Regions from separate parts of the Homo sapiens genome. Here region 2 is linked to region 1. Evidence: fine-mapped expression QTL. A gene starts in region 1. The other region holds a variant in brackets. All regions are shown on one strand. Distances are from middle to middle.

Region 1 (4,378 bases):
CAGGGCCCCTGCCTGCCTGCCCTGGGGGGCCTCCTTGCGGTGGGAGGCTGGCCTCAGCGGGGCCACCAGCACGGCCAGGAAGCCAGTCTCTAGCAGCAGGGAGTCCCTATGGGGAGAGCAAATAGCACCAAGAGCCCCTCCCCACACAGCTGCTTCCCTCGGAAAGTCCTCCCAGGAAGGGCAGAGCCCTCCCCCACCCCCTACCCAGCCTCCCACAGCCCCAGGCCCAGCCGTCACTCACCACTGGAAATAAAGGAACACCTGGCCCACCTGCGGAGAGAGGGGCTGTCAGGGAGCGGGTGTGTCTGTGGACTCAGGTAAGGTAGAGGCAGGGGTGGGTGGTGGGGGTTGGAGATAGAGTGAGCTGGTCACAGGTCCCACTTGCCTGGCAGGCTGACAGGTAGGCGGCCCAAAGCAGCAAGTAGATGACAGGGTGGCGCAGTGGGCTCAGCAGCAGGGCTCCCAGGGCCACTAGTGCACCCAGCAGGCTCAGCAGCTCCAGGCCCTGGGCCGTGTCCAGCCCCAGTCTCGGCGCTTCCCACAGCAGCGTCGGGGTCTCCCACAGCTGCTGCCAGCGCCCCTTGCCCTGAGGCCGCAGCGTCCTCCTTGCAGGTAGGATGCCCTCGGGGCCATACAGGCCTGTGGGAGGGCATGTCATGGCCAGGCCCTGGACAGCCCTTGCAGACTAGACTACCTCTGAGTCAGGGCCTGCAGATCCCCCAGCCTAGGTCAGAGCATGCGGATACCTCCATCCCTAGGTCAGAGTCTGCAGTCCCTCCAGAGCCCGTCCCCCAGGTCGGGACCTGTCAAAACCCCGTCCCAGGGCTAGAGGCCTGCTCAACTACCTGAGTCAGGGCCTCCCACCCAGCAGAGCCCACTGCCCTCTTCCAGGTCTCAGCCCGATCTCCTACCTGTCCCACCAGGTCTGGGAGGAAGCCTCTCTCCCACCTCTCTCAGAGTTCTGTCCCCCACCCCAGGTCAGAGTCCAGAGCCTTACGGGAAATGGATCACCGCACACCTTCCTACCCCCACAGCGGCCTGCAGGACACGAACCGCCGCCCCCTACCCCACGCCAAGGCCTGGCCCTCACTCCCAACCCCGGACTGCGTGAGTGCCGGGCACAGAGAAAAGAGGACATAGGGTCCCGCGCCGAGGCTGGGGGTGTCCCACCCTGGGTGCCTTCACCTGGGATTTGCGTGTAGAGGGAAGCGAAAGCAAACATGAAGACGGCCGCCACGCCCTGGAGGAAGAGCTGCCGCGGGAGCCGGGAGCCCGCCATGTCCGCTACGCGGCCCGCTAGAGCAGGGCCCGCCCTCCGCGTCCGCCCGCCCGCGGCAGCCCCAGGCCCCGCCTCCTCACCGCCCCGCCCGCCCAATCCGTGGCAGCCCCAAGCCCCGCCTCCTCGGCCCGCCCGCCCGCCCGCGGCAGTCCCAGGCCCCGCCTCCTCACCGCCCCGCCCGCCCAACCCGTGGCAGCCCCAAGCCCCGCCTCCTCGGCCCGTCCGCCCGCCCGCGGCTGCCCCAGGCCCCGCCTCCTCACCGCCCCGCCCCCCCAACCCGTGGCAGCCCCCAAGCCCCGCCTCCTCGGCCCGCTCGCCCGCGGCAGCTCCAGGCCCCGCCCCACCCCGCCCCGCCCGACCCACGGCGGCCCCAAAAGCCCTCCCGTCCAAACTGGTGGCAGCCCAAAGCTCCGCCCACCCCCCCCTCCCGGAGGCTTCGACCCCGCCCCGCGACTCTTCCGGTGAGCTCCCGCTGCGCGGCGCCGGGGTTCGCCTCTCTGGCTTTTGCCCACGTTACGTCATAGACATGCGCGCGACGCCGCGCCTACGCATTTTCCTGGGCGGGAACAGCAAAATGGCGCCAGAACTAGTGGCGGGCTGAGGACGCCGTACCCCTCGGAAGGCAGCCCTGCGGTCCCTTTGCCGCCCGTTCCCTCCCGGACATGGAGGACGTGGAGGCGCGCTTCGCCCACCTCTTGCAGCCCATCCGCGACCTCACCAAGAACTGGGAGGTGGACGTGGCGGCCCAGCTGGGCGAGTATCTGGAGGAGGTAAGGGCGGCGGGGGAGTGACGCGGGGTGGGCCGGCGGGTGGGGCTGCGGGGCGGGGGCTCCGGGCCCGGGGCTGTGGGCGCCCCACCGTCTCCACGCCTATGGCTATCTGGCGCTCTGGCCGCGCAGGTCCTCGGGCTCCCTGCTTCTTTTCAAACTCCATCTCTGCCTCCCCAAATCATCCCTTGTTGGATTAGCGTGGACCTGTCATTGCAGGTTTCTACCCGTCAGCGAGCCGTGAATGATTGAGTGGGTGGTGACCAGCCGTTTCTCTAACGTAGTGGAATAGACTAGAAAGCATTATTGCTTTTATTGCAGTTATTGCGAGCATGCTTGTGTGTTTGAGAGGTCTGGATCACGATGTCAGAGGAATTTTTTATCTTGGATTTTCAAACCAATTTCAAGCTATTGCCATGCTCTATCCTGTTAGCGATTAGTGTTTCTTCCATGTTTGACAGCCCTGTCTAGACCTGTGTTAAGCTGTCTGCTCCATATTTGCGCTTCATTTTTACTCCTCAGCCCAGCTCAGTCTGGCGTCCACGACACTTAAATGTTTCTTGTCTTGATCAGCAGTGATCTCCATTCTACCAAATCCAAGGGACATAAGTCAGCATTTGTTGGACTGGCCACTCCTTTCTTTTTGAAACATGGTGGTAGGATTTTTTTTCCCTATTTCATTGCCTGATTTTTCTTTTCTATCCAGTCTCTAAGTGTTGAGTTCCTCAGGATGGGGCCTAGGTCATCTTCTGATGCATTTACCCTGAAGTGTCATTTATTTCTATGATTTTAAATATTGCCTGTATTAGGACAACTACCAGATCTGCAGCTCCATCCTAGATCTTTCCTCCAAATCTACTTTACATATCCAGCTGCTCTCTTGACATCTAGTGGGTGTCACGCAAACATCTCATTTAACATATTTAAAGTGGAACTCTTCATTTTTCTGCTTAAACCCCAGCTTTTCCCATCTCGGAAAATGACACCGCTGTTCAACCAAAAGCAAAAGCTAAATGTGGCTATAGTGAAGCCCCATGCTTAACACTCAGTTCATCCATGAATTCCATCAGTTATACCACCGGAATATCACTTGAATTCATCTGTTGTCCATTTTATTTGGTCTAGGCCACCATTGTCTCTGGCCTGGATTTGTGTAAAACCTTCCTATTTGGGTTCCCTTATCCCTGTTTTTGTCCCGTCCAATTCGTGCTCCAACCAGCAGCAAGTGTGACTCTTAAAAATTAAAATCTGGCCACAGCACTGTTTTCTGCCTAAAATCAACCCCTCAGTGGCTTTCCATTATGCCCAGAATAAAACCCAAATTTCCTTCTCTGAACCTGGCTCTGCTCTCCATTTTAGCCTCATTTTGGGCTGTTTTGTATCTTGTTCTTTTGAACCAGTCAACCTATGGCCCCTCCAAGCTTTTTCTTGGTGGAAGATCTTCATGCTTTCTGCCCCCACTTGGGAATCTTCTTTTTTGTTTTTATTTATTTATTTATATATTTTGAGACGGAGTCTCACTCTGAGACGGAAGTGCAGTGGCGCGATCTGAGCTCACTGCAAGCTCCGCCTCCTGGGTTCACATCATTCTGCCTCAGCCTCTGCAGTAGCTGGGACTACAGGCGCCCGCCTCCACGCCCAACTAATTTTTTTGTATTTTAGTAGAGACAGGGTTTCACCGTGTTAGCCAGGATGGTCTCGATCTCCTGACCTCGTGATCCGCCTGCCTTGGCCTCCCAAAGTGCTGGGATTACAGGCGTGAGCCACCGCGCCCGGCCTCTTTTTTGTTTTTAAATAAAGAGGGACTTCATATGGCAAGGAAAAGGAGAAAAAAAAAATCAGAGAGGAGGATCTTACTGTGTTGCCCAGGCTGGTCTCAAACTGCTGTGCTCAAGCAGTCCTCCTGCCTCAGCTTCTCAGGTAGCTGGGACTATAGCTGTGCACCACCACACCTGGCTGGGAATATTCTTTCAATGACTGAGTTTGTTTTCTTTTCTTTTTTTGAGATGGAGTCTTGCTCTGTTGCCCGGGCTGGAGTACAATGGCAGAATCTTGGCTCACTGCAACCTCCGACTCCCAGGTTCAAGCAATTCTCCTGCCTTGGCCTCCCGAGTAGCTGGGATTACAGGCATGCACCACCACGTCCAGTTAATTTTTGTATTTTTAGTAGAGATGGGTTTCGCCACATTGGCCAGGCTGGTCTCAAACTCCTGACCTCAGGTGATCCAGCCAGCTCTGCCTCTTTCCAAAGTGCTGGGATTACAGACGTGAGCCACCACGCCTGGCTGACTGAGTCCTTTTCATTCTTAAGGTCTTAGTGTAAATGTCAGCT
Region 2 (4,378 bases), 100 kb after region 1:
AGATTGCCACTGCCCGGAAACTGACCGTCCACCTGCGCCCTCCTGCCTCCTGTGACCTCGAGATCTCTCTTCGGGGGGTCAAGCTGAGTCTGAGCGGAGGAGGGCCCGAGGTGGGAGTGTGGGGGACTGGGGACCGGGGACTGGGGGATAGGGTTAGGCCACGGAGTCCGACGGGGCCAGGCTGGCAGGGGTGTCCAGTAGGTGGGAGGCAGGGGTGGCGCCAGGCCTCCTTTGACACAGGGACTTCTGCCCACCTCTGCTCTAGTTCCAGCGCTGCAGCCATTTCTTCCAGATGAAGAACATCTCCTTCTGCGGCTGCCATCCCCGCAACAGCTGGTGAGAGTCTGACCGTCCCCGAGTCCCCCAACCGCCCCCACAAACCCTGAGAGTCCAACCGCCCCCTGAGTCCCCACAGACCCTGAGGGCTGCCCGTGCCCAGCCCTGAGAGCTCCACCTGCACCCACTTAGCTCTGTGAGCTGAGCCTGCAGTGGCGCCTGCTCTGAGCTGGACTCAGGAGGCGTGGGTCAGACAGGCTTGCATCCAGTCTGGGTGGAGAGAGGCACACGGGCGAAGGATGTGAGAAGCCTGTGTGGGTGCAGAGGACGCCTGAGTGGGCCTGGGGCTCAGGATGGCCAGCCTGGAAACACAGCAGGTGACAGCGGTGGGGAAGTGGATCTTCCTGGTGGGGTCTAGCTGAGCCAAGGGTGTGGGATGCACTGGTCGGGGGCTATATAGGCTCTGGGGCCCGCGTGTAAGGGGAGCAGCTAGAAATGCCGGGGAAGACCTGGACCCTTTTGATTATGCCAAGGAGCTGTACTTAATCTTGCTGGTAATGAGGCCATAGAAGGCTCCTAATGGAAGGAGGTGACACAGGGGACCTGGGGGCTGCTGAGGTTATACAGGTGCTATGTCCTGAGACCAAGTGTGCAGATGCAAGAGGCACTGAAGAGGCAGTACAGGCAGGACCTAGGTTGACCGGCTGTAGAGGGTGACCTGGAAGAGACCAGGGTGACGTCTCCCTGGGGGATGGTTGTACTGCAGCCCACACACCGAGAGGGGATGCGGGATCAATCACAAACGGTGAGACTGAAGTGGCCGTTGGTCCCATGGGTCTGGAGTTTAGGAGGGAGACCTGGAGGGAAGATACCAGGTCAGAGCAGGTAGATCACTGAGACGAGAGGGGAATGGCCAGGCAGGGTGAGGGGAGGAGGGGAGGAGGAGGTGCTGGCATAGGAGCAGCAGGCCAAGGGGGGCTGCCAGCTTCCCTCCAGGCACAGGCCCCTGCCCTCTGTGTCCCAGCACCCTAGAGGAAGGAGATCTGGGAGGAACCAGAGAGGCAGAGCCAGCCAGAGGCTGGAAAGGACTTGCGGGGAGTTGGAGGAAGCAGGCTCACAGACAGGCAAGACACAGCAGGGCACGGTGCTGCCAGGACTGAGGCGTGGGACAGACGTCAGTGCATCTTGGGGGCCTTGTGGACTCTCCCTGTGGTCGAGAGTGAGGGTGCTGCCTGCTGGAAGGTGCGGAGCCCTTTTGTGTTGTCCCCGCCGAGTGCAGAGATGGTCTGATGGGATCCATGCGGAAACGCTGCTCAGTGGGGTGGAGAGGTGGGACAGCGGGCAGCGATGCAGACCAGACTGCGGGGCCAGCTCTGGGGTGGAGAGGTGGGACAGCGGGCAGGGGCGCAGACCAGACAGCGGGGCCAGCTCTGGGGTGGAAAGGTGGGACAGTGGGCAGGGGCGCAGACCAGACAGTGGGGCCAGCTCTGGGGTCACCAGGACAGCGAACGGGGCGCAGACCAGACAGCAGGGACAGCTCTGGGGTGGAGAGGTGGGACAGCGGGCAGGGGCGCAGACCAGACAGCGGGGCCAGCTCTGGGGTGGAGAGGTGGGACAGTGGGCAGGGGCGCAGACCAGACAGTGGGGCCAGCTCTGGGGTCACCGGGACAGCGAACGGGGCGCAGACCAGACAGCAGGGACAGCTCTGGGGTGGAGAGGTGGGACAGCGGGCAGGGGCGCAGACCAGACAGCAGGGACAGCTCTGGGGTGGAGAGGTGGGACAGTGGGCACGGGCGCAGACCAGACAGTGGGGCCAGCTCTGGGGTCACCGGGACAGCGGACGGGGCGCAGACCAGACGGTGGGGCCAGCTCTGGGGTCACTGGGACAGCGGACGGGGCGCAGACCAGACAGTGGGGACAGCTCTGGGGTCACTGGGACAGCGGACGCTGCCAGGAGAGGAAGAATGACCCAAATTTCTCATCAGAAGGAAACTGGGTGAAGCTCAGGTCTCAGGCTGGACAGGGCCCCAGCTAGAATTTCGTGAGAGGAAGGTGGTCAGTCGAGTTTGGGGTTTGGAGTCAAGATGTGGCAGGGGTGTGGGAGGAGGTGGAGGAGCTGCTGCCCTGGCCCAGACCTTCCTAATATTTGTCACCCCAGACCCCCCGTCCCCGGTCCCTTGCCACGAGGAGGCACGGACGAAACCGTGTGAGGTGAACGATGAACTCGTTTCTTCATGGCGGTGGTGGTAGGTCAGGAGAGCGTGGGGTGTGCTGTGTTGGGATCTGGCATTAGGATGTCTGGTGTTGGGATCACAGACTGTAGCCTTTTCTCCCAGGGCTGCCCATCCTGCCTGTGTGTCCTGGGCAAGCTCCTGAACCTCTGTGCCTAGCTCTCCATCAGGGCCCTACCTCAGAGGGCTGTTGTGAGG[C/T]TTCTGTGAGTTAATGGAAAGGGCAGAGGATGGTGCCTGAGTAATGCAGGAAGCCAGATCTGTGGGTCGGCGCTTATTACCATCATGACTTGAACGCGGCATTTGAGGCGGGCCCTGTGCTCTGTCTGTGGACAGCGTGCACACACTGTCCTGGCAAGCAGACCATCATGTGGCTTCCCATTTGGTGGAATCGCAAAGCCCCGAAGCCATGGGGGAATGGACGGGTCGGCCAGTTTCAGGGGTGGGGGTGGGGCAGCGTCCTGCTGCAGAACTCTGCCTGCCTCTCCCTCTGGACGACGATTTTTGATTTTTGCTAATGTCTGGGTGGAGGAGCTGGGCAGTGACTCCATGAGCGAGGCCCCGCAAGGAGCTGCTTTCCAGTGGGAGCGAGGGGTAGACCGGAAGAGGGTTTTACAGACCAGGGGTAACGTCCAGCCCCACCTCGGAGCTGGGCAAGGGGCTGTCAGTCTGCTAGGCCCGCAGGAGGAGGCCTGAGTTGGCAGGAGATATGGTCTCCAGTAGCCAGGCAGAGGCCTTGCTCTGTGGTCCTGGGGCAGGCCCTGAATAGGGCCACAGAGGGTAGCAGCACCGGCTCAGAGAAGGGAGAGTGGACGCCCCTGGTCATCATGGAATTAACTCAGAGCGTGAACTCTTGGTAGGTGCCCAGCCCTGTGCTTGGGCTGAAACCAAAAAAAGACAACTTCAGATCTTGAAATTGTGCGACCCCCACACTCCTGTCCCTTACCCTCTCCCCAAGCCCTTTGTTCCTGCCTCTTCTCTCTACATCATTTGTGGGGTGGCCAAGGCTGGGCCAGGGCTCTGACGTGCCCTCCACACTGACTTGCCCGCAGCTATTTCGGCTTCATCACCAAACACCCCCTGCTGAGCCGCTTCGCCTGCCACGTCTTTGTCTCCCAGGAGTCCATGAGGCCGGTGGCGCAGAGTGTGGGGTGAGTGGGGCCCCAGGGTGTGGGTGCAGAATGGGTGCAGGGTTACGGAGGTGGGGAGCGGAGGTGAGCAGGTGGGGGCAGGAGCCTGGCAGGGGAGGTCTGGGGAAGGAGAACCAGATGTGCTGTGTAGAGAGGGCAGTGGTGGGTGACAGTTTGGGGTGCTGGGCATGGGGTGGGAACAGGCACAGACACATGGCCCAGGCACTCTGGCAGGGGTAGAATTGCTGGGCCAGGAGAGCTGAGGGTCACACTTGGGGGTGACATGGCCATGCCTGGGTGGGGGGTTATGGATGGCTGCAGAGGGAGGAAGGAGGGAGAGCTCAGAGGCTCTGTGGAAGGCAGTTTGGGGGTTGAGGACCGGCCCTGAGTGGCTGGTGGAGGACCGTCTTTCCCCAGCCGCGCCTTCCTGGAGTACTACCAAGAGCACCTGGCGTACGCCTGCCCCACGGAGGACATCTACCTGGAGTAGCCTGCCCACCGCTCTGTCTCCTGGCCGTCTGCTCCAGGCGCAGCTGGGGCTGAGGATGTCTCAAGAGGCCACCATGGCTTTGGCAAGGACTGGATTGGGGGGACATGGGACCTTACGCTTGTGGGGGTCTGCGGGCTGGGAACTCTCGTCCTCGGTCCCCAGGGCGCAGCTGTTGGGGCTGCGGGGGAGTGGAGCCCCCGTGCCCCTGCTTTTCCTCAGATCCGTTCTTTCTCTGTGTTGTCCTCCTCCTTCCC

Evidence for each region.
Region 2: its variant is fine-mapped to the expression of NCAPH2 in whole blood (TOPMed, PIP 0.97).

The regions. Positions count from the first base shown.
Region 1 is chr22:50,506,397-50,510,774 of GRCh38, forward strand. It overlaps NCAPH2 (non-SMC condensin II complex subunit H2), which reads left to right and starts at 1,828. Exons shown (of 20, transcript NM_152299.4): 1 at 1,828-2,049. The coding sequence starts at 1,942. LMF2 (lipase maturation factor 2) reads right to left here and starts at 1,306. Exons shown (of 14, transcript NM_033200.3): 1 at 1,186-1,306; 2 at 386-639; 3 at 242-270; 4 at 1-106. The coding sequence starts at 1,279. RefSeq lists an enhancer at 1,037-1,086 and silencers at 1,307-1,406, 2,077-2,366.
Region 2 is chr22:50,606,656-50,611,033 of GRCh38, forward strand. MAPK8IP2 (mitogen-activated protein kinase 8 interacting protein 2) reads left to right here. Exons shown (of 12, transcript NM_012324.6): 9 at 3-110; 10 at 266-336; 11 at 3,557-3,655; 12 at 4,052-4,378. The coding sequence ends at 4,124. Among named protein-coding and RNA genes, the nearest start is that of MAPK8IP2, 8.1 kb to the left of the region's middle. RefSeq lists an enhancer at 2,572-3,356. The variant C/T (reference allele first, on the strand shown) is at 2,706.